2 linked regions of the Homo sapiens genome follow. The protein of the gene in region 1 interacts with the protein of each later gene in a biochemical or structural test. Each region holds a gene or a part of one and is shown on either strand. Other genes may lie near its edges. The genes, in order: RRP7A and UTP23.

Region 1 (11,677 bases):
CTGGAACACCACATAGGCTACCTGGAAACCCTGAAGAGAGAGAGATGTCAGAGGTTGGGGGCTCCTTCCCACGTCTGGCACAAGGTCTCCAGGCCTGCCCTCAGCCTAGGTGGTAGCTACACCAGGGGAGATGGTGCTAGGCTATTCCTGAGCCATGAAGAGAACCACAGGCCATCCCATAATCCAGGTCAGAGGCAGCCACACTTCCAGTAATCCTGCTTCTGCGGGAAGTGACGGCTGTTCCCAACTCCTCCCCAGGAAGAGGGGATACAGAGGCTTCTTTTCTTCCAGTCACGGGAGGGATGCGGTGAAACACAGGGGTCGCCCTGGGCCAGGGCAGGTTTTTGGAAGCCAGGCCTGGGCGCACACACCATGCCAGATGCCACTGTGTGGGGAGGAGGTGTGGGCTCCAGGGCCACTGGGAAAGCTGTGAACAACAGTGCTCCTGGAGACCCGGCCCCCAAGCCTGGGGAAGGAGCTCCCTCAGTGGGGAAGCAGGAGGGGAGCCGGGGAAGGCCCTGCAGGTGGCCAGCAGAGACGGTCCGTGAGCTTTAACACGGGACAGAAAAAGCCAGGCAGGAAGTGCAAGGATGTGGCAAATCTGGCAAAGAATCGCAGGCTTTGTCACCCAGACAGTCTCTTACACCACACACGGTGAGGATGGGCTCAGGACCAGAGAATGCTCTGATGTCCCACTGCCAGCTCCCCCAACACACTGGGGACAGTGCCCCACCCCCCTCACTCTAGTGGAACCCCGGGCTTGGCGGCTCACCGGAACTGGCTTGGGATGAAAAAACTTCGACCTTGACTCCTTTGGGCTCTCAGCCAGGTCCGGCTTCTCCTGCAACTCTACAGACTGGACGAGGCCACAGGTGGACAGGAGGCGGGACAGGCTCTCCTGCCGCAGGGAGAGGGAAGCCAAGTGTGAGCATCCGCAGGGCCATCCCAAAGCCTCCCTGCACCATGGGTGGCGCTGCCAGGGGTCCAGCGCCGCTGAAGGACTCAGCCACAGCCACATCTGCCCAAGCCGGGAGACTGTGGGCACCATGGCCTCCGACCTGTTCCCCAGGGACAATATGGAGGTTGATATTCCTGCTCTTTTTTTTTTTTGAGTTGGAGTATTGCTCTGTAGCCCAGGCTGGAGTCCTGCAACCTCCACCTTCGGGTTGCAAGTGATTCTCATGCCTCAGTCTCCCGAGCAGCTGGGATTACAAGCGCCCACCACCACCACACGTGGCTAATTTTTGTATTTTGAGAAGAGACAGGGTTCTGCCACGTTGGCCAGGCTGGTCTTGAACTCCTGACCTCAGGTGATCCGCCCGCCTCGGCCTCCCAAAATGCTGGGATTACAGGCGTGAGCCACTGTGCCCGGCATATTCCTGCTCTCTCACTGGAGACAGGTGGGGACATTCTTGCTGTTATTCTGATTTCCTATGACAAGTTTTACTACCTGAATCAGCAGTAGTGACCCTATGCTATGACAGTTGGGATGGTGGTTGTCTGTGGTGGAGGCAGCGGGGGTTCTGGGATGTGCTGCTGTGTCTCCACCTGGGCGCTGACTACACAGCTATGTTCTGTCTCTGGGATGCAGCGAGCTGGACACTTGCCACTGGGGCCCTTCCAGGCACACATGCTGCACTTCAAAAAAGGTCAGAACTCACACCCCCTCTTCTACATGCTTCTTTTTTTCTCTAAGTTTAGAGGAATCTTTTACAAATTAGGGTTTCTTTTTTGAAAACAAATCCAGCAATTCCCTTGGCCAGGGGCGGTGGCTCACGCATGTAATCCCAGCACGTTGGGAGGCTGAAGGGGGCGGATTACTTCAGGTCAGCAGTTCGAGACCAGCCTGGCCAACATGGTGAAACCTTGTCTATACTAACAATACAAAAATGAGCCGGGCATGGTGGTGGGCGCCTGTAATTCCAGCTGCTTGGGAGGCTGCGGCAGGAGAATCACTTGAACCCGGGAAGCGGAGGTTGCAGTGAGTTGTGAACGCTGTGCTCCAGCCTGAGCAACAGAGGGAGACTCTGTCTCAAAATAAATAAATAAATTAAATAAATAAATAAATAAATAAATCCAGCAATTCCCTTAGCTTAGTTTTTGTAAAAAAAAAAAAAAAAAAAAAAAATTAACAGTTGTGTTTGGATAGAATTAGAGGCACTTTTTATTTTCTTATACTTTCCTACTTTTAAATTATGGACATGTACAATCTGGAAGAAAACACGTAATTCAGACAACTTTGGGTAATATGTAAAAATGCCTTGGGCTACTTAGGATTGTACTTTTTTCTCTTTTTTTTGAGTCAGAGTCTCACTCTGTTGCCCAGGCTGGAGTGCAGTGGCGCGATCTTGGCTCACTGCAACCTACACCTCCCGGGTTCAAGGGATTCTCATGCCTCAGCTTCCCTAGTAGCCAGGACTACCCACACATGCCATCATGCCTGGCTCATTTTTTATTTTTTAGTAGAGACGGGATTTCACCATGTTGGCTAGGCTGGTCTGGAACTCCTCCCTTCAGGTGATCCGCCCGCCTCAGCCTCCCAAAGTGCTGGGATTACAGGCATGAGCCACCGTGCCTGGCAGGATTATACTTTTAAAGACATCTTTAAAAAGCCAGTTTCCTGACTGGAGATCACGGTAGCCCTCCTGACACTCTCCTCTGGGGCTCCCATTAGCTGTGTCCGTCTCACCACCAAGGACTTGGTGGAGGCCATGGGAGCCCCCACCTTGAGCCCACAGGTCTCCTCCCAGACAGACACTAGCTCACCTCTGTGCAGTATGGGGGCACATTGAGGACAAAAAGAGTCCTCTTCTGAGGCCAGGTGGACTTGGTGCCTTGTCGAACGCCGTGTGCTCTCACATAGAGGTAGTGAGAAGCCTGTTGCTTTTCAGAGAACTTGATTGGAATAGCTGGAAAGGAAATGGGAGGGGAGGGATGGCCAGGCTACCCTGAGCTGAGGCCAGCGAGACACTCACACAACTTCCTTTCTCCACATCCCTGTCTAGTCCTATCTGTTCATCGATCCATCCATCCCTTCACCAACCCCCCTTACCCTACTCTTTGGCAAAGCCTGTGCGGGCTCTAAGAGTCTGCCCAGGAGGGCCTCCCAAGGCGGTGCAGGGAGAGAGAAGATAAATGGGCAATGATTACAGATGGGGGCGCAATGAGAGGGAAGCTCGAACCCTGCGGCTCTTGGAGTCAACGCCAAAATCCTAACCATGGCTGGAAGCCCCGTGAGACCCTGCCTGTCACTGTGACCTCTTCTCGTACCATCTTCCCCCAGCACCTTGGATTCTCTGTTCCCCCGGGTACACCAGGGCCTCACACATGCTGGCCTCTCTACCTGGCGTGTCACCCTCTTCCCTCCCGCTCACCTCAGGTTTAGCTCAAACCTCGCTTCCTCAGGAGAGCCTTAGCATCACCTCCGCCCCTCCTGCCAGCTCAGATCCCACTGCCTGTGCCTTCACAGCTTCTCTTAACAGTCTGGAGGCTATATTGATGAGATTCTTTGGTTAATCGCTGGCACACCCATGACTGTAATCCTCATAAAGCTAGGAACTGCTTCTATTTTTCTCACACCTCCGTCACAGTACCGGTTGGCGTAGAGCTGCGGTCCCTGAACTCAGGAAGCTCAGTTGCAATAACGGAGAAGACAATTAACAAGCATACAGCAAACTTGTATCAATTGTGAAAGAAACATTACAGGGTGATGGGGTGGCAGAGGTCTTCTTTCCATAGGCCATCACGGATGGCCTCTTTGAGGAAGCAACATTAAAGCTCAGGCCAGAACGCCACTGTGCAACAAACCGGCACAGCACGTGCAAAAACCCAGAGGGGGGAAAAAGCATGTTCCCTCAGAGGAACAGAAAGAGCTTTAGGTCGGCACCAGCCAGACCACGTGGCCCACACAGGTTAAGAAGTCTGGTTTTTGTTTTAGAAGCTACCTGATAAAGCCACTGGAGGGAATGCAGTAGGTGTGGCGCCTATCGTGGGCGCGGCAGACATGATCGAATCTAAATGTCCTTAAAAGAACATTCTGGCACGTGGGTGGAGAACAGAAGCAGGGGCAAGAGGAGAAGGAGGGCAACCGAGTAGGAGGGCCTATAACAGCCCAGGTAAGAGCTGATGGGGGATGGACTAGGAGCAGAGGCGATGAGAAGGGGATGGGCTCACCTGGACGAGCGGGTGTGGACGGAAATGGGTTTGTCCTGGGTGAGAGTGTGGACAGAGGCGGGCTCACCCAAGGGAAGCGTGGACCAAGTTGGGCTCGCCCCGGGAGAGTGAGCAGGCAGAAGGGCGCCGCCTGGGTCCTCGGGACCCCGGAGCCTCAAGACCTGCGGAGCCTGGGGCCACGGGCCACCGGGGCTCACACCCAACCGTGCGGCCGCTCCTGGGGACCCCCGGCCGTCGCCAACCCCCAAACACCTCCCGGCGATGCCTGACCGCCCCCGGTCTCGCGTCCCGGAGCCCCTCACCTGCGTAGCCCAGTGGGCTGGGGATACGGTCCTCCGGGTCCCGCGCGGCGCACTTCCTCCTGCGCGCCACCATCTTGCCACCCGGGAGCGCGGGGGCCGCCGGGAGTTGCGGTTCGGCGCCGGCGCGAGCGCGTTTTCGTGGCGCCTGCCCCGCCCCCTCACTCCAAGCCCGCCTCCCCGGCCCCGCCCGCCATGGCCCAACCTTCATCCGCTCAGAGATAAATCAGCGCGCGAAAGTGGGAGCGAATGTCAGAGTTGACCCCGGCCAGTCACGAGTGCGAACTCAGCTTTCCACTCATGCATTCACACGTTGAATAGGCAGTGTGAGAGAAATCCAGGATGGCTGCTAGGTTTTCAGTCTGAGCAACTAAGAGGATGGTGTTGCCATTGACTGAGATGGGAAGACTGCAGGAGAGGGGCCTGCTTGGGGGTGAAAATGGAGTAGATCAGTTCTCTGTGAGCCGTGGTGAGATGCCCATTAGGCCACTCAGGGGACATGTCAGGTGGGCACTTAGATATGAGACTGAACAGACTGAACATCAGAGATGTCAGGCCTGGAGCAATACACACGGGACTGGCCATGGATAGGTTATTGACAGTTACGAGAGGAGCCGGGTGCGGTGATTCATGCCTGTAATCCCAGCAATTTGGGAGGCCGAGGGGGGCGGATCACTTGAGGTCAGGAGTTCCAGACCAGCCTGGCCAACATGGTGAAACCCCGTGTCTACTAGGTACAAAAAGTAGCCGGGCGTGGTAGTGCATGCCTGTAATTCCAGCTACTCGGGAGGCTGAGGCAGGAGAATCGCTTGAACCCAGGAGGCGGAGATTGCAGTTAGCCAAGATCGCCCCACTGCAATCCAGCCTGGGCAACAGAGCGAGACTCTGTCTCAAAAAAAAAAGAAAGAGAAAAAAAAAGAAAGTTATGAGAGGGTGTGATCGCCAAGGGAGCAAGTGTAGATAGGGGAGAAATGAAGTCCAAGGACTCCACTTTTCTGGACTCCAAAGGGCCTCTCAGACTGTGTACCCGCCAGCCCTTGATGTATCTACTATTTCTCTTTTCCCAGTGTACAGTTGCTTCTTGGAAATGCTGTCGGCCCCTTTGGGGAAAGATTAGGAGCCTACTACTGCAAATATTTGTGGTCTGGAGGGGACCCAGCCTCCCTTTCAGTCAGTGACCTCTGGTTCTGAGGCCTAGCTTAGGCCTGGAAACTGGATGAGGGGTTGGGATTTTCCATCAGCAGCTGCCATTACTGTCCTGTTCGCTCGTTTTTTGTTTTTGATCTTTCTTTGCTTAGCGCAGTCAAGCAGTGTTGGGGCTTCCGTGGCCCCTGGGAATACCGTGGTCTACTAGCATTCACCAGAGACTCCTGTGCGCCCAGGATCCCTGGCAGCCACTCTGGCCTTGCTCCTGTTCTGACAGTCACATCAACCGAACCTCTGCTCTCTGGAATCCTATCTCCTGCTGACCTTTCCGAGCCCGGCTCCAGTCCTATTTGCCCTCTTCTACCCTGGCCTCAGAGGACGGCCATGCCGATTGCCCATTGATGCCTAGACCCCCCACTAGTCAAAGCAGTCTCTGGTGAACCCTCCAGAAATACGGTCATCTGGCTTCTCAGATGTTGCATAATAAATCTGTGCCTGCACATCCCCCTCCCCGAGGCCTTTGGCTCCTTCTCAGTGCCCTGCCACCATCGTTCTGTTATCTCCCTCTCATGTATTGCTTCCACGCTTCAAGGAGCCATCTCGATGGATATCAGGACTGGCCACACAACATCACTTTTTTTTTTTTTTTTTTGAGATGGAGTCTCGCTGTGTCGCCAGGCTGGAGTGCAGTGGCGCGATCTCCGCTCACTGCAACCTCCGCCTCCTGGGTTCAAGCAATTCTCCTGCATCAGCCTCCTGAGTAGCTGGGATTACAGGTGTGCACCACCATGACCAGCTAAATTTCTTATTTTTGATAGACACAGAGCTTCGCCATATTGGCCAGGATAGTCTCGATCTCTTGGCCTTGTGATCCGCCCACCTCGGCTTCCCAAAGTGCTGGGATTACAGGCATAAGCCTTTTTTTTTTTTTTTTTTTTTTTTTTTTGAGACGGAGTCTCACTCTGCTGACACCCAGGCTGGAGTGCAGTGCTGCCATCTCAGCTTACTGCAACCTCCACCTCCCGGGTTCAAGCAATTCTCCTGCCTCAGCCTCCCAAGTAGCTGGGATTACAGGCATGTGCCACCACACCCAGCTACTTTTTTGTATTTTTAGTAGAGACAGGGTTTACCATGTTGGCCAGGCTGGTCTTGATCTCCTGACCTCAGATGATCTGCCCACCTCGGCCTCCCAAAGTGCTGAGATTACAGGTGTGAGCCACTGCACCCAGCCTAGAATTCAAGACTCTTGAGCCCATCTATCCAGACGTTCCCTGCCCTAGGTGACAGTGTCCGCTCCTTCACTTCTGTGCTCCTTGACTGGAGCACAGCACTTAGCACAGCCGTTCATCTGCCCTGATTCAAACTCCACAGTTCTCATCAGGTTCTAGGCCTTTATCAGCACAATGTGACCTGTCTTTAAACACGTCTCTGGAAGCCCCTCCTGATTTTCACCTTGGGCTATAAGTTGATAAATGGCTGTCCTGAGGCCTGTTGTTTTCTTCCTTCAGCCCACTGATGCCACTCGATCAATTAACTCCACTTTCTTTATAATTACCACTGCCCATGTATTTCATGGGTCAGGAATTTGGGCAATGCTCTGCTAGGAGATTTTGTTTCTCCCTGTGGCACTGACTGAGGGCATTTGATGGTATTCAGCTGGCATATGGGCTGCACTAAAGGTTCCAAGTCACTTCACTCACATCGCAGCATCTCAGCAGATGAGTCCGGCATCTCAGCAGGGATGGCTGGTGATAGAGTTTGAGTATTTGTCTCCGCCCAAATCGCATGTTAAATTGTAATCCCCAGTGCTAGAGGTGGGGCCTGGTGGGAAGTGTTTGGATCATGGGGGCCTCATGGCTTGGCGCCGTCTTTGCGTCTTTGCGATCGCGAGTTCTCGCGAGATCTGTTTGTTTAAAAATGGGTGGCTGCTTCACCCCCCACTTTGTTGGTCAGGCTTTCACCATGTGAAGTGACCCCTCACACTTCGCCTTCCACCATGAGTCAAAGCTCCCTGAGGCCTCCCCAGAAGCAGATGCAGCCATGCTTCCCGTACAGCCTGCAGAACCAATTCAACGTCTTGGCTTTATAAATTCCCCAGTCTCAGGTATTTCTTCATAGCAGTGCAAGAATGGCCGAATATGGCTGGGCTCAAGTGGGACTTGTCAACTAGAGCACCCACCCATGGATTTCCTAGCATGTGGTCTCAGTAGTCAACTTTTTTTTTTTTTCCTGCTTGCTGGGAGGAGGAGGAGGGAGAAGCGACGGGCTTCATTAGGAACGGTGAGTTTGCGACTCTGCCGCTAAGTGGCAGCTCCAGCTCACCCCCCCAGCTCCCTCCCACAGGCCACGGCTGGGCATGGAGAACTGGTGACTTCAGAGGCCCGGAGAGAAAAGACGGGGGAGAGCGAGGGGCCGCCGTGCCTGAGGTCTGGGGGTGACAGCAGAGGATGGCCAAGGAGTGCAGGGCCAGGTTGCCCTGCCCTGTCTAAGAGAGTCTTACCGAATATAGAGGTTGAATTGTGCTCCCCAAGAGACATGTTGAAGTATGTTTTTTTTGAGATGAAGTCTCACACTGTCTCCCGGGCTGGTGTGCAGTGGGCGATCTTGGCTTGCTGCAGCCTCCACCTCCCGGGTTCAAGTGATTCTCCTGCCTCAGCCTCCCGAGTAGCTGGGACTACAGGCGTGCGCCACCACGCCTGGCTAATTTTTGTATTTTTTTTTTTTTTTTTGAGATGGAGTCTTGCTCTGTTGCCCAGGCTGAAGTGCAGTGGCGCGATCTCGGCTCACTGAGAGCTCCGCCTCCCGGGTTCACGCAATTCTCCTGCCTCAGCCTCCTGAGTAGCTGGGACTACAGGCGCCCACCACCACGCCTGGCTAATTTTTTGTATTTTTAGTAGAGACGGGGTTTCACCATGTTAGCCAGGATGATCTCGATCTCCTGACCTCGTGATCCACCTGCCTTGGCCTCCCAAAGTGCTGGAATTACAGGCGTGAGCCACCGCGCCCGGCCTAATTTTTGTATTTTTAGTAGAGACGGGGGTTTCACGTGTTAGCCAGGATGGTCTCGATCTCCTGACCTCGTGATCTGCCCGCCTCAGCCTCCCAAAGTGCTAGGATTACAGGCGTGAGCCACCGCGCCCAGCCATGTTCAAGTATTAACCTCTCCCTTCCCCCACCACTCTTCCATTCCTGTGAATGTGACCTGAATATGGAAACAGGGTCTTTGCAAATGTAATCAGGTCCTTTCAACTCAAGATAAAATCATCTTGGATTTAGGGTGGGCTCTTTGTCCAATGGCTGGTGTCCTTATAAGATGCCTAGGAGACACACACAGGAAAGAGGGCCATAGGAAGATGGAGGCAGAGATGGCAGTGGTGAGGCTATAAGCCAAGGGATGCCTGTGGCCACTGGACGCCGGAGGAAGTGAGGGAGGATTCTTCCCTAGAACCTTCAGAGGGAGCACAGCCCTGCCGACACCTTGGTGTTGGACTTCTCACCTCCAGAAATCAATTTCTGTTGTCTTAAGCCACCCAGTTTATATTATTTTGTTACAGCAGCCTGGGAAAAGGAATACACTGAATAAGAACCCAAGTGAGCTTATTAGAAAGAATATTGAGGCCTGGCGCAGTGGCTCACACTTGTAATCTCAGCACTTTGGGAGGCTGAGGTGGGTGGATCGTTTCAGTCCAGGAGTTTGAGACCAGACTGGGCAACATGATGAAACCCCGTCTCTACCAAAAATACAAAAATTGGCTGAGTGTGGTGATGCACACCTGTAATCCCAGCTACTTGGGAGGCTGAGGCAAGAGAATCCCTTGAACCCGGGAGGTGGAGGTGGCAGTGGGCCGAGATTAAGCCATTGCACTCCAGCCTGGGTGACAGAACAAGACTCTGTCTCAAAAAAGGAAAGAATGTTAAACCTCCTCAAGAGGAGGTAAGCGATTTTAAACACTCTGAAGCCACGCAGGGGTAACCCTTTTACAAGCCAAGAGGAGGAGAAGGAAAAATTGAAGTCACTTTTTTTTTTTTTTGAGATGGAGTCTCACTCTGTCACCCAGGCTGGAGTGCAATGGTGTGATCTCGGCTCACTGCAAGCTCCGCCTCCCGGGTTCACACCATTCTCCTGCCTCAGCCTCCTGAGTAGCTGGGACTACAGGCACCCGCCACCACGCCCGGCTACTTTTTGTATTTTTAGTAGAGACAGGGTTTCACCATGTTGGCCATGATGGTCTCGATCTCTTGACCTTGTGATCCGCCCGCCTCGGCCTCCCAAAGTGCTGGTATTACAGGCATAAGCCACTGTGCCCAGCCTCAATTTTTCTTTTTTAATGGTTAAAAAATACTTTCAAATGTCCACACAGTAAAATTCACTTCTTTTGGTATATAGTTCAAATGCATAGAGTCCTATCACCATGACCACAGTCAAGATAGGGAACATCCCGTCACTCCCAGAACTCCCGTGCTGCCGCTGGCAACCACTGCTCTGTTCTCCCGTTGCTTTTCCAGCGAGTCCTGAAAGTGGAATCGTGCGAGTCCAGGTTCTTTCACTGAGCATCGTGATTTGAGGTTCACCCACATTGTTGTATGGTTCCTTTTCATTGCTGAGAAATGTTCCACTGTCTGGATGGAGTGTGGTCTATTTATCTATTCACCAAGTAAAGGATGTGGGCGATTTCCAGGTTTCGACGATTATGAATAAGCTGCTGTAACATTCACGCACAGGTGTTTGTATGAATGGAAGTTTTCACTTCTCTTGGGTGAATACCTGGGAGTGGGGTTTCTGGGTCCCGATCGGGTTTCTAGTGGTCTGTAAGTCAGACTTGCTAAGAGTTTTCGTTGGGGAGACGCACACAGGTAAGGTCAGCTCTCAGGGTCCTTTCTGCAATGCGGGGATGTCGAGGTCACCTGACAGAGGGGCAAATGCCAGCTGGTCGCCCAACCTGCTCTTGTCCGTTCCTTTTCCCTCAGAAGCTAATAGAGGAAAGTAAACCTGTTGTTTCACTCTCATTTCCTTTTATTTTCATTAATATTAGGAAATGCCAAGATTAGTGAAAGAATGAAAAGATGAGTCAAGGCCAGGCATGGTGGCTCACACCCGTAATCCCAGCATTTTGGGAGGCCGAGGCGGGCAGATCACGAGGTCGAGAGATCGAGACCATCCTGGCCAACATGGTGAAACCCTGTCTCTACTAAAAATATAAAAAGTAGCTAGGCGTGGTGGCGCGCACCTATAATCCTAGCTACTCAAGAGTCTGGGGCAGGAGAATCTCTTGAACTCAGGAGGCGGAGGTTACAGTGGCCTGAGATCACGCCACCATACTCCAGCCTGGGCAACAGAGCGAGACTCTGTCTCACACAGACACACACACACACACACACACACACACAAAAGATGAATCAAAACAGCCTAGAAAAGGCTTCAGTGATCCTCAGACTGGATGATCGAATCCCGAATAATGGGGAATCAACAGTAATGGCCTAGTAACACTTTTAAAAAGTCTTCTTTCTTTTTTTAAGAGATGGGGTCTCACTGTGTTGCCCAGGCTAGTCTCAAACTTCCAGGCTCAACCAATCCTCCTACCTTGGCTTCCTAAAGTGCTAATATTACAGGTTTGAGCCACTCAGCCCAGCCCCAAATCCTTATTATATCCTATTTGTTTGCTTTGCATGGAAGTTTATACTTACTTCCATCCCACCCTTAACATAACTGCAGAGGGAATTTCTTTTTTTTTTTTTTGAGACAAGATTTTGTTCTGTCAGCCAGGCTGGGGTGCAGTGGTGCGATCTTGGCTCACTGCAAGATCCGCCTCCCAGGTTCATGCCATTCTCCTGCCTCAGCCTCCTGAGTAGCTGGGACTACAGGCCCCCACCATCACCCCCGGCTAATTTATTTTTGTATTTTTAGTAGCGACGGGTTTTCACCATGTTAGCCAAGATGGTCTCGATCTCCTGACCTCGTGATCCACCCGCCTCAGCCTCCCAAAGTGCTGGGATTACAGGCGTGAGCCACCGCGCCCGGCCCAGCAGAGGGAATTTCTAAAGGCAAAGACTCTGCTCCT
Region 2 (12,011 bases), on another chromosome or scaffold:
ACATCCTAGACAAAAAAGAACAAAATAAACCTGAAGTATGCATAAGAAAGTAAATAACAGATTGTAGCAGAAACTGAATGTATTTAATCACTTAAAGATGGTTGGTCACAACCATTAAGTTGTCTTTCTGGCCTCCCATAAGGAAGTTCAATATTGTGGGTATTAATTTCATTGTGGATATTTATTTATTGTATGAAATAAATTTATCTTGTATTCGCAACAAGATGTTCTTCATTCTCTTTGTCACAGAAACTAATGTTTTTAGCATACTTCTCCAATTGCTGGAAATATTTCTAATTTAGTTACAGGCAAAAAGAGAGAGGCTGATGAGGGCCTTCCAAACTAAGCTGTGGGCGCTGCCCATGTGTGATTACTGCCTGGGGACAGGAAGCAGAGGATAGCCTGTCACACCTGAGTGAGCAAATAAAAAATAAACAGTCTAACTAGTTCAGCTTTTGTGGCATAATAACTCTACCCACTAGAAAAACACTGCCCAGTAAAAGTCAGGCTGTGACCATTCCATGCCTCAGAACTACCCAGTATTGGAGCTGCTTTCCCTCACTTGGCTAAGACACTTAAACCCCTTTCAATGCAGTAAAATGAGTCAGGACACCAAAGATGAGCCCCTAAATGTTGTTAAATGTCATTTTATTACGATAGAGAGTGCTAACTTACAACAGAGAGTATACATTTCGGGGTTCACCTGGCTCGTTCTATATTCAGATGAGCCAAAAGATGTGTGGGGTGTGTTTGTGTATGTGTGTGTGTGCGTGTGCGCGCGCACACACGCACATGCTTGCCGTGTCTTACTTTGTTGCCCAGGCTGGAGTGTAATGGCACGATCTCAGCTCACAGCAGCCTCAACCTCCCCAGGCTCAGGTGAACTTCCCACCTCAGCCTCTCGAGTAGCTGGGACTCCAGGCACACAGCACCACACTTGAATAATTTTTGTACTTTTTGTAGATAACCAGTTCCACAATGTTGCTCAGGCTGGCCTCGAACTCCTGGGCTCAAGTGATCCTCCTACCTTGGTTTCCCAAAGGGCTAGGATTATGGGTGCGAGCCACCATGCTCAGCCTGCCAATTTAAATTATTTTAAACAAGAGGGAAATATATGCTATCATGGATCTGGATGTCTAGAGAAGGGCATACTCCAAGTGAAGCAGCATAAAGACTACAGTTTCATTACTTCATGACTCTCTGGACTCTGTCTCCTGCCATGTTTGGGTTCTGACCAAAGACTGGCTACCACTATAATCTCAAGCTCACAGTAGCAATTGAAACAATACACTTTTTGTTTTGTTTATTTTAAGGAAACCTCTCCCCCAGTCATAGAAAAAAGATCTTGCTCATTAGCCTCATTGAGATCAATTTAAGTCATAGGCCTCCTTTTGTCTACAAATGTGAAATAAGACTATGGGAGGTTATACTTTGAAGAGCTAGGTAATTTGTTCAGTGTTATGAAAGAAACTACAGAGAGTATAAAGTTGGAGCCAATAAAAAGAAAATAATATTCATTTACACATAAGAATTAGCATGTGGTCATTTTCTGTATGTTTGCTAAAATAATAATAATTTTTAAAATGACATTGGACTTTTCATCCCAGTATTTTGATTCATCACTTACCAACTAATATTTAAACAAAGTAATCTTGCAGTAAAAAAAAATTTGAGAGGATTGTAAGAGTGACTTTTATTTTGTATAATATCATGTAATTAATACTTCATATTGGTGTAATTCAATTATAAATACTAGACTTTGAAATAATATTCTACTGGATTATTGAAAGCATGTTTAATTTCTTGCCACCAGGAGTTCAGTTTCTGCCCTGAGTCCTCCTGCTGCTTAAAAATATATACAAAACCATGAGTGAAAGAGTTGGCTTCAACATTTTGTTAAATATAAATAGTGTTTTTTAGAAAATCCTTTTAAAGCTGTAATCTGACATAATTTCCAATCTTTAAACTTCTTTAAGTAACAGTAATAATATTTGGTTACCTAGAGTAATTTTATAAAGATTCATTAATCTTCTAAAGTGCTTTGATAGATTAAAATGAAAGACCCATTTAGTGTGAACTTCTCTATCAGTTTGAATAATAATTAAATTTCAAATGGCAGTTTGCTTTGCATTACAGTAAAACATGTTTGCCACTGGTACTATTTCTTAACTTTTTGCTCTGCTCTACCAGTTTTTATTTTCACCATTTAAATTAATGCCATTAAACATTTTGTAGTAAAATGCCAATGGAGAGCACTATTTAAATCTGTTAGAGACGGGCTGGGTGAGGTGGCTCACACCTGTAATCCCAGCACTTTAGGAGGCCAAGGTGGGCAGATCTCTTGAGGTCAGGAGTTTGAGACCAGCCTGGACAACATGGTGAAAACCTGTTTCTACTAAAAATACAAAAATCAGCCAGGCGTGGTGGTGGGCACCTGTAATCCCAGCTACTCAGGAGGCTGAGGCAAGAGAATCGCGTGAACCCGGGAGGCAGAGGTTGCAGTGAGGCGAGATTGCACCACTGCACTCCAGCCTGGGCAACAGAGTGAGACTCTGTCTCAAAAAAATAAATACATACATACATACATACATCTGTTAGAGAAATAATAAATTTCTTTCAATTTACCTAACATGGTAGTATTTGTTCTAAGTATGATTTCATCCAAATAAATTATTACAGAAAGCAAACTTGCTAGTCTAATTTTATAGTGATCCGACAATAGTCATCTGATAACTGATGATGGGCACTTCCTGTTTACTGTCTAGTTTAGAAATATCCTCGAGAAACAGAAATCTCTTGAAATCTTTTTCTAAGAGACAGCTTCTCCTTTGTCATTTGACCTGAAAGAAGAGCTCACTGATACTGGCAGGACCTATATACATGAATTCCGCTTGCTTTCTTTAACTGACAACTGGATGACACTAACATTTCCTTGATGTTCCTTACCCAAGCAGCTGGGGCTCTTCATATTTAACTAACTTTTCTCAACAGGAGATATATCCCACTGACACACCAAATTCAAATCAAATTGTTTATACTTTCAAGAGAAACAAATGTCAAGACAGTTTCTATAGTATGTAAAGAAAGATTTGGTTTATTTAACTTGGAAGACTTTCCACCTTTTAGAGGAAACATATAAACTAGTATTTTGAACCTGTTCAAAGGAAGGGCAATTGTATTGACTGACATCAGCTAACATCAAGGTCTCATCAAACATATTTGTTCATATAAAATTATCTAATTCTGGCAAGTAGTTTTAACTTCCTCTATCATTTAGCATTGAGTTTGGCTACATATAAAATAAACTTATGATAACTTTTTTTTAAAACCAAGGTAGAAGTTTATTTTTCTTCTCATGTAAAAGAAATCCAGAAGTAGAAAGTCTATGTTTGGAAAGACACTTTCACAGTTGCGAGCGATCCAAGCTCCTCTTATCTGCTTTGCCAGTGTTAAGTGAATGACCTCCATTCTCAAAATTACCTCATGGTCTAAAATCGGTTGCTGGAGTTAAAGCTATCACATCCAAATTCCAGGGAGTAGGAAGGAAGGAGATATAAAACACAAAAGTGCCCACTGCCAAGCTAAGTTGACTTCCTTTAAGCCGGCTTCCCAGAATTCCATGCAACACTTACACTTACATATCTTTGGCTAGAACTTAATCCTGTGGTTCTACCTAACTGCACAGAATGCTGGGGAATGGGCTGGCTGCTGTGGCTCACGCCTGTAATCCCAGCACTTTGGGAGGCCAAGGTGAGCGGACCATTTGAGGTCAGGAGTTCGAGACCAGCCTGGCCAGCCTGGCCAGCATAGTGAAACCCGGTCCCTACTTAAATATACAAAAATTAGCCGGGCATGGTGGCCTATGCCTGTAATCCCAGCTACTTAGAAGGCTGAGGCAGGAGAATCGCTTGAACCCAGGAGGTGGAGGCTGCAGTGAGCCAAGATTGTGCCACTGCACTCCACCATAGGCAACAGAGCGAGACTCCGTCTCAAAAAGAAAAGGAAAAAAAAAGAATTCTGGGGAATGGATTTGCTTATCTGGGCACATTACACTCCAGAATAAAATCAGGAGTCTATTCCTACAAAGAAGAGAAGAGATATTGGGTGAAAATTCATAGTCTGTGTCATATCTATTATGTTATATTTGGTGGTTTTGTGAGAAATGTCATGCAGCCATTAAAAATAATGAATGAGAACTCTGCCAATTGACTTTGGGTAGATGTGTGTAGGGATTTCTACAGGATTGTTAGGTGAGAAAAGCAAAATGTATAGAATTGTTAAATATGATTCAATTTCGCATAACAGAGTATCTCTACATAAATATTAAATTGTATATATATGCATATGATATATCAATATGTAAATATGGAAACATTGCCAAGAGATACATAATACATCATCAAAGTGTTATCTGGGCAAGGGGAGAAGAAATTACTATCTTCATGTTCTTCCACTTGTTTTAAGAGGCATATGTTATTTTTGTAATTTGAAATACATAAAGTTTTTGTTATTTTATTTTATTTTAAAGATTATTTTAAAAAGTGACAGCCTCCATATCTGACCTTTGTAACACCTTCTGACATATTTGAAATTTCACAGTAAGGCATTCCATGATGGAGCCTATCCTAGGGGATCTTAGCGAAGAACCTCATAGGACCTCAATACAAAGTGCTTTACCTAAGTTGTCGTAAAATATTTATTTAGCTAAATTATTTATTTAGGCAGTATGTTAGATAATGTTAGGTAGAAATTGTTTTTGAGCTAATGAATGTTAACAAATGTTTATAAATATTTAGATATGAATATAAGGAAGAATAATACCACAATAGATATGTTAGCTAAATTGTCTAACATTTACGAAATTAAACAAAATTATACTAACATTGATGAAATTCAACAAAGTAACCTTTATGAATTATATTTAATGTTTACCTCTTTAATTCCATTTAGGCCATGAATCTTTCATGAGAAAGTCCTATTTGGGAATTAGTCATACGTTTCAAAAATAAATTATTCTCATGTCAACTTGGCTTCATCAAAATTTCATGAAGAAAAAAACTTCAAAATCATGTACAACAGCATAATATTATAAAACTATATTTGATCCAGACATAATAAAATGAAGAACATAAAAAATAAAGAAAAATAAATTAATCGCCTACTTACTCCAGCTGAATGTGGATTTCTATTTGGCATGGAAAATGTCCAGTGGACTGACCTGAGAAAAAAGCTAAAAACTAGCAATGCTGTTATAAATTATTGTTCCTTCAGTATAAGGTCAAAAAAATTTCAATGAATATTAAATATTTTAATAATGACATAACTTTCAAAATAAAATTTCAGATTTAAATTTATATCCAAATGGTTCACTCAATAATGGCAGTATTTGGCTTCTGCCTTGGTTGTGGCTAAATATTGATTTTCCATTACAGATCATTTGGCATCTAAACAAAAGTGTATTAAGTGGACCAATTAATAAAAATATCTTATTGGATAAACGATGCTTTATTACAAAAAAGGTCCTTCAGGAACACTAATGAGCATAATAATGATTTGGGGAGATTGTAATAAATGTCACTTCCTCTTTGAATAGTACCCCTCTCCCTCAATACTTATTCTGAATCAGAAATGGGCATTTTAAACAAGCACACTAAGAGCTTTTTCTGCATATCCCAGGACCTTGTTTTGAGAAACACTGCTGTAATAGAAAACTCTATTTTTTTCTCTTTTTGTCTTCTTTTAATTTAGCAGAGACAGGGGCTCCCTATTTTGCCCAGGCTGGTTTCCAACTCCTGGGCTCAAGTGATCCTCCCGCCTCGGGCTCCCGAAGTTCTGGTATTACAGGCATGAGCCACCATGCCCGGCCGAAAACTTTGTTTTAAACTTGATAATCACCATTATAGACCATCTTCATGTTTTCATAATAAAGATAGGGTGCAAACTGGCACTGTCATATACATAGAGCTTGGGGAAAAAATGTGCTGTAGCTTGGTAAATTAAAAAACGACAACAAAAACTAAGATAAGACTAAAATCCCTAGTGCTGCACCACATTTTTCTTAGTACTGAAAAGTGGCCAAGGAGCTGGTAGATAAATCTGAGGCTATTTAAGAAAAAATGTTTTAACTGTTTTGCAAGACTCAGGTGGTATCTCGTTTCTCTGTCTGTGGTGGGCGCATAGTTGGAGTAGAGAGTTGGCATACAGGGATAAAAAGAGGATTCAAATTGAAAAGTACTGAGCAATTACACTCAAAGACCTTGAATCCAACCCTGCAAAAGTTTTCATGGCTTCCAATTCCTAAATTCATTTTAAGTTTAAATGAAAGCAACCATCTAAGTGATGTGCTGGGACTCAGATCAGGGCTAACATTATAGATCTTATTCCAATTTCATAAACCTACATATTGAAATAAAACCCCAAATGCAAACAATGCATTCAATCACGTTGTAAATCATTTTCTGTGCTGGTTCTTTCAATCTTTAGCCAAAACTAGATCTGGGACAGATTCCAGGCAAGGACAAAAATGCAAAATTCCATACTCCCCATTCTTTGATTATTTTACCTTGAAGTGGATACTCGACAGTTAGCCACGGGAGAACTTGAAATTTTCTGATTCATTCTCCTCATTAATCAAATTGACCAAGTAATTTTTAAACCTCCAGTCAGCTTTGTGCCTTCCTGTTACTGGCCCAGTATGTAGTCTTCCTATGTCAGAGACCATGCACATAAAAAGAGTACTTGAAACTTATCTAGACCTACAACCAGTTTGACAGTGAGGAAGTTGAACCCAGCTTTCTTCGGGAGTTGCCCAAGATCAAACGGCTTGGGTTTGTGGCAAAACCAGGACTCAAGGTTAGGAATTCTGACTCTAGGCAAACGAAGCTCTTGAGAGTTCTTCCAAAACACTCCATGCGAGTGATTTAGGATGGTCCTAAGGCAGGAGGAAATGCAAAATGGTGGCACCCTTTGCCCTGACAAATGGTTCCTGAGTGACGTTAGTTTCTATGGTGGTGTAGCAAGAACATTTGAACTTCAGGCACGAAAACTGGGTTCCAGACACTAACAAACTACGTGCCCTTCGTGAACGTGCTTAATTTCTTTATGGGAAAGCAGCCAGTACAAACCTCCCCACTCATAGCTATCCAATATATCATTTCCTTCTTTCACTTGGGAATTATAAACATTCAGGGGAATAATGTAAGGTAAATCACTTAGGACAGTGTCTGGAACATATTAAGGCTCAATATTATCACTGACTACTACTATACTGCCAGTCTTTCAGAGAAGCTCTTGCTACGCGCCTCTAAAACGTAGGTAACACGCTAAATGTATTCTCGTAATTTTCTTTTACCGTGGCCCCAGACTGCGCATGTGCGCCCCCGTGCGGAATCGCGCACCCCAGCGGTTTTCCAGCGTACGCACAAGTTCCGCCCTAAGGGACCGCCCCTTTAAGCGCGGGCACTGCGGTGGAAGCGCGCGCTGGTCTGGACATGACGTAAACCAATGGGCAGGCCCGGAAGACAGAGGCGTTTGCTTCCGTGGCCAAAGGCGCTTCATTTCCGGGTGAAACTGGCATTGAGGGTACTGGGGCGTGCGTGAGGCGTTTACTGATGCTTCCTGGTCCGGTGGCCTCGGTCCCGGTAAGCCAGGCATGAAGATCACAAGGCAGAAACATGCCAAGAAGCATCTTGGCTTCTTCCGCAACAACTTCGGAGTCCGCGAGCCGTACCAGATCCTGCTGGACGGCACCTTCTGTCAGGCGGCGCTGCGGGGCCGCATCCAGCTGCGGGAGCAGCTGCCCCGCTACCTCATGGGGGAGACGCAGCTGTGCACCACAAGGTGGGCCCGGGGGGCTGGGGAGGAGGCACAGAGGGTCCGTCGGGTGTTGTAGAGGCGAGGCCGTTGCTCACAGACCTTCATTGCGAGCTCAGGAGGTGCAAAACGCCCCGCCCACGTGGAGTTGACAGTTAAGTGGAGAGGTGAAGGTGGTCAGGCGAATACCTATAATAGAGGCAGATTGGACAGTGCCCTGTGAATATCACGTGTCGTTAGCCTGGCGAATGAGAGCACATTATAGCAGAGAGATCCGACTTCGAATCTTGATCCCAGTTCTACCAGCTCTGTGATTTCTGTCAAGTTATTTAGCCTCTCTGAGCCTCGGATTCCTCATTTGTAAAATAAAGATGATAACTGCTTAGAAGATTGCTGTAAGCTCAAACGAGTATAGTGTACTAGAGCATTTTTCGGTATCCAAAGTGTACCCGTCTTCAAATGGTTGCTGTCATTTGCATAGCTTTTCTTAGTTTAAACCAAAACTCTGCAAGCCTCACAGTGAACCTGTGAGTTACCATCTTTGATGTCCAGGGCAAAAAGTCAGTACTTGAGATTAAGGAATCTGCCCAAGCACATTTGTTTATTCAACTCGCTTTATTAAGTACCTCCTATATGCCACATACTGCTCCCTCATGGCCAGTAAAGTGCATAAGTCAGTCTGCAGTGTGTGTTTTCACTCTAGGTCTGATGTTTCCCCACTTCATTGAAATGTGGGAACACTTAGGATGGAAGCTTGTCGGGATGAAGAGGAGAGAGGAGAGAATTGTGACAGATTTCAGATAACATTTGAGCCCATTCACTTGTTCAGTTCTGAGAGGAAGAACTATTTTGAATGACAGAAAAGAATGACACTTCTTGTTGTGGAGACCTCTTCACACGAAATGGAGTTATGAAATGCCTGGGAAAGAGGTTGCAGCACAGAATATATTTGGGAGTGAAACTAGGAAGAAGGCAAATTGAGGCTAGGCCATGAAGAACTATTAAGAAATTTAGTAGTTTTTTCATTGTAGAATATTTACTTTTAAAAAGCAAAAAAAGAAAATTAAAATGACTCATAATACCACTACTCACGAATAATCACTGTTAACATGTGCAGTGTCATCCATCCAGTTCTTTATACACACTCACACAAGCACAAGAATGGACTTTTAAGCCAGGCAAGGTGGCTCACACTTGTAATCCTAGTAGCTACACAGGAGGCTGAGACAGGAGGGTTGCCTGAGTCTAGGAGTTTGAGGTGAGCCTGAGCAACGTAGGAAACCCCCATCTCTAACTACAGCCATAACAAAGTATGGGCTTTTTCTGTGTATACTGTGTTAATAGTCTCCTTTTCCTCACATACGATTACTTAATGAACAGCTATCTGTATTTGTTCAGAATTTCTCAAGCAGGGTCTCGGCTGGGTTACAGATACCCCCAAAGTTTTGATCCCCTTAGTCTTTAGGGCTGTCTAACAAATCCTTCAGTAGTCTTTGCTCCTGAATTGATTGCTTTTGTCTACAAGCAATTTGTCCATATACTCCTGTGTGCCATAGAAATATTAACATTTTAAATATAGTGCTATGATATTAAAAAGGTTGAGAAGTGCCACATAAAATTATATTCTACAGCAATTTTTCTAACAAATTTATTTTAACTCTGGAATTTTTCAGACAACTCAAAGGTAGAATAATATAATGAAACCTCTCTCCAGCTTTTGCAGTTATTAACATGGCCAATCTTGTTGAATCCCTCACCTCTCCTTACTGATGGGTTGCTTTGGAGCATATTATTTATCACTTCTTTGGCATGTATCTTGAAAAGATAAAGAAGGCTTTTAAAAATCAGTATTCAAACTAAATACATATATTACATTTGATTTATATGTCACTTAAGTTTTTTAAAAAAATTTATTTTTGAGATGGAGTCTCACTTTATTGCCCAGGCTGGAGTGCAGTGGTGCGATCATGGCTCACTGCAGCCTCCGCCTCCCGGGTTCAAGTGATTTCCCTACATCAGCCTCCCAAGTAGCTGAGATTACAGATGTGTGACACCACGTCCTACTAATTTTTGTATTTTTTAGCAGAGACAATGTTTCACCACGTTGACCAGGCTCGTCTTGAACTCCTGACCGCAGGTGATCCACCCACCTCGGCCCCCAAAGCATGGGGATTACAGGCATGAGCCACCATGCCAGGCAGTTTTTAAAAATTTTGGCAGTTTCCCCTCCCTTTAAATTTTGCAATTTATGTTTTTAAGAAATCAGGTCATTCGTTTTTCAGTGGAATATATTTCTTGGCCACTAGTAGTTAGGTCTCTACAGAGTTTACTGATATTCAGGTTTGAAGATGTGTGGAGTTAATTGATGAAGTAGAACAGCAGAATGTTATCAGGCCTGGGTTTTATTTTAGAAAAGATAACTGCAGTGATGTGAAGGGTAAATTGGAGAAACAAGAGAGCAAAGGCATGAATCTGTTTTGCGGTTGTTTAATCAAGAAGTAAGGGGAGCCTAAACCTGGGAGAGGAAAGGCAGGAACCCAAGGGTTCTCCAAAGAAACGCTACGTTACTGAGATAGATAGGTTGAGCAGCTGATGGCATAGGAGTATGGGTGAAGAAGGGCAGGAAGGTCAAATGTGATTTCTGATTTCTATCTAGGGTGTCTGGGAAAATAGTAATTTCAAAGAGATAGCAAGTCTTGGAGGATAAATTTGGATACAGGAAAGTGGTTTGATCTTAGACATGGTGAATTTGAAGAGTTGATAGCAGGACATCCACAGGCTGGCAGTACTCAAAATAGAGGTCAAGTCTAATGACTAAAGCAAGCAAAATCTTCTTGAAACAGAAAGATGATAAAGGAGATGAAGCAAGAAAGAATCTGGCAAATGCTGGCTAGGGTTGAGGAACTCTTATGACTAAATGTTTTTTTAAAAACAACTTGATGATGTGAGAAGTTTTACTGTTCTGAATTGAAAATGTTTTGAAAGTATACCAATTTGTACTTGAAGCAGAAGCTTATTACGCTATGGTTGGGACAAGGGAGCTGTTGTCAAACTGCAAGTCTCGGTACCACTTGCTAGTTACTTGAACTTTGGCATGTTACTTGAAATCTCAGAATGGGGTGCTCTAAAATAAGGATAATTTCAAGGTAAGCGACCTAACTTCATAGGGTTACTTTGAGATTAATCAAGAATTTATGTAAAGAGCAATTTGCATACTACATGGAACATAATAAGTGCTCAGTTAATTTTAACTGTTGTTCTTCCTACTTGGTAAATGCATTTTTCAAGTGATCTTTTAAAGTAAATGGTTACCAGATGACAAATTTAGATTGTAACAGCATAGTTTTATTTTAAGAAAAAATCGACTATTGTTTTTTACACCTTATGTAAACAAGTGAAATGTATCTGCTATAATTTTTCTTTTCAGATGTGTGTTAAAAGAGCTAGAAACATTGGGAAAGGACTTATATGGGGCAAAACTGATTGCACAAAAATGCCAAGTTCGAAATTGTCCTCATTTCAAGAATGCAGTGAGTGGATCAGAATGTCTGCTTTCCATGGTTGAAGAGGGAAATCCTCATCATTATTTTGTGGCAACACAGGTGATACTACTTTTAAAACCACAGGCAATTTTCACCATTTCTATTTATACTTCATATGGAGCTATTTATAATCAGAAAAAAGTTAGAATGATTAGACTTTTAAAAATACAGGCTTCTAAGTTAATTTGCAGTCAGTAAAAGCAATTGTCATTTGAGAATTTGAGGAAAACTTTAAGCATGTTGATATTCTTTTTAGTAGTGGAAGGTTGGGTTTTGTTTTTTTTAATGATTCCTTTGTTTTGCTTTTTTTGTTTGTTTCTTGAGACTTGAGGGTCTCACTATATTGCCTAGGCTGGTCTCGAACCCCTAGGCTAAAGTGATCCTTCCACCTCAGCTCCTGAGTACCTGGGATTACAGGTGTTTGCCATCATGCTGGACACTGGCAGAAGTTTCTTTTTTTAAAACAAGAAATTGTTGACATGAGATGTGATGATTTGTTGTAGGGTTCTTGAAGGGAAGATAAGTAGAGCAAAGTGCCTGTATTCTGTTAATTTTTTTCATGTTCCTGTATTTCATACTGTTTCTCAAAGTCATGGTTCATACTGCTTAAGACTGTACCAACAGTATGAAATATTTCAGGCTTTTGAAGAAAAATAT

What was found.
Region 2: the proteins of RRP7A (region 1) and UTP23 form a complex in vitro, tested with the Homo sapiens proteins (one study listed by BioGRID).

Annotation. Positions count from the first base shown.
Region 1 is NC_000022.11:42,515,239-42,526,915, forward strand, and holds the start of RRP7A (ribosomal RNA-processing protein 7 homolog A), read right to left. Parts: upstream 4,559-11,677; 5' UTR 4,549-4,558; coding exon 4,476-4,548; intron 4,116-4,475; exon of another isoform or gene 3,178-4,115; intron 2,910-3,177; coding exon 2,767-2,909; intron 899-2,766; coding exon 773-898; intron 31-772; coding exon 1-30. UniProt on the Homo sapiens protein: Nucleolar protein that is involved in ribosomal RNA (rRNA) processing. Also plays a role in primary cilia resorption, and cell cycle progression in neurogenesis and neocortex development.
Region 2 is NC_000008.11:116,758,953-116,770,963, forward strand, and holds the start of UTP23 (rRNA-processing protein UTP23 homolog), read left to right. Parts: upstream 1-7,571; 5' UTR 7,572-7,651; coding exon 7,652-7,839; intron 7,840-11,239; coding exon 11,240-11,414; intron 11,415-12,011. UniProt on the Homo sapiens protein: Involved in rRNA-processing and ribosome biogenesis.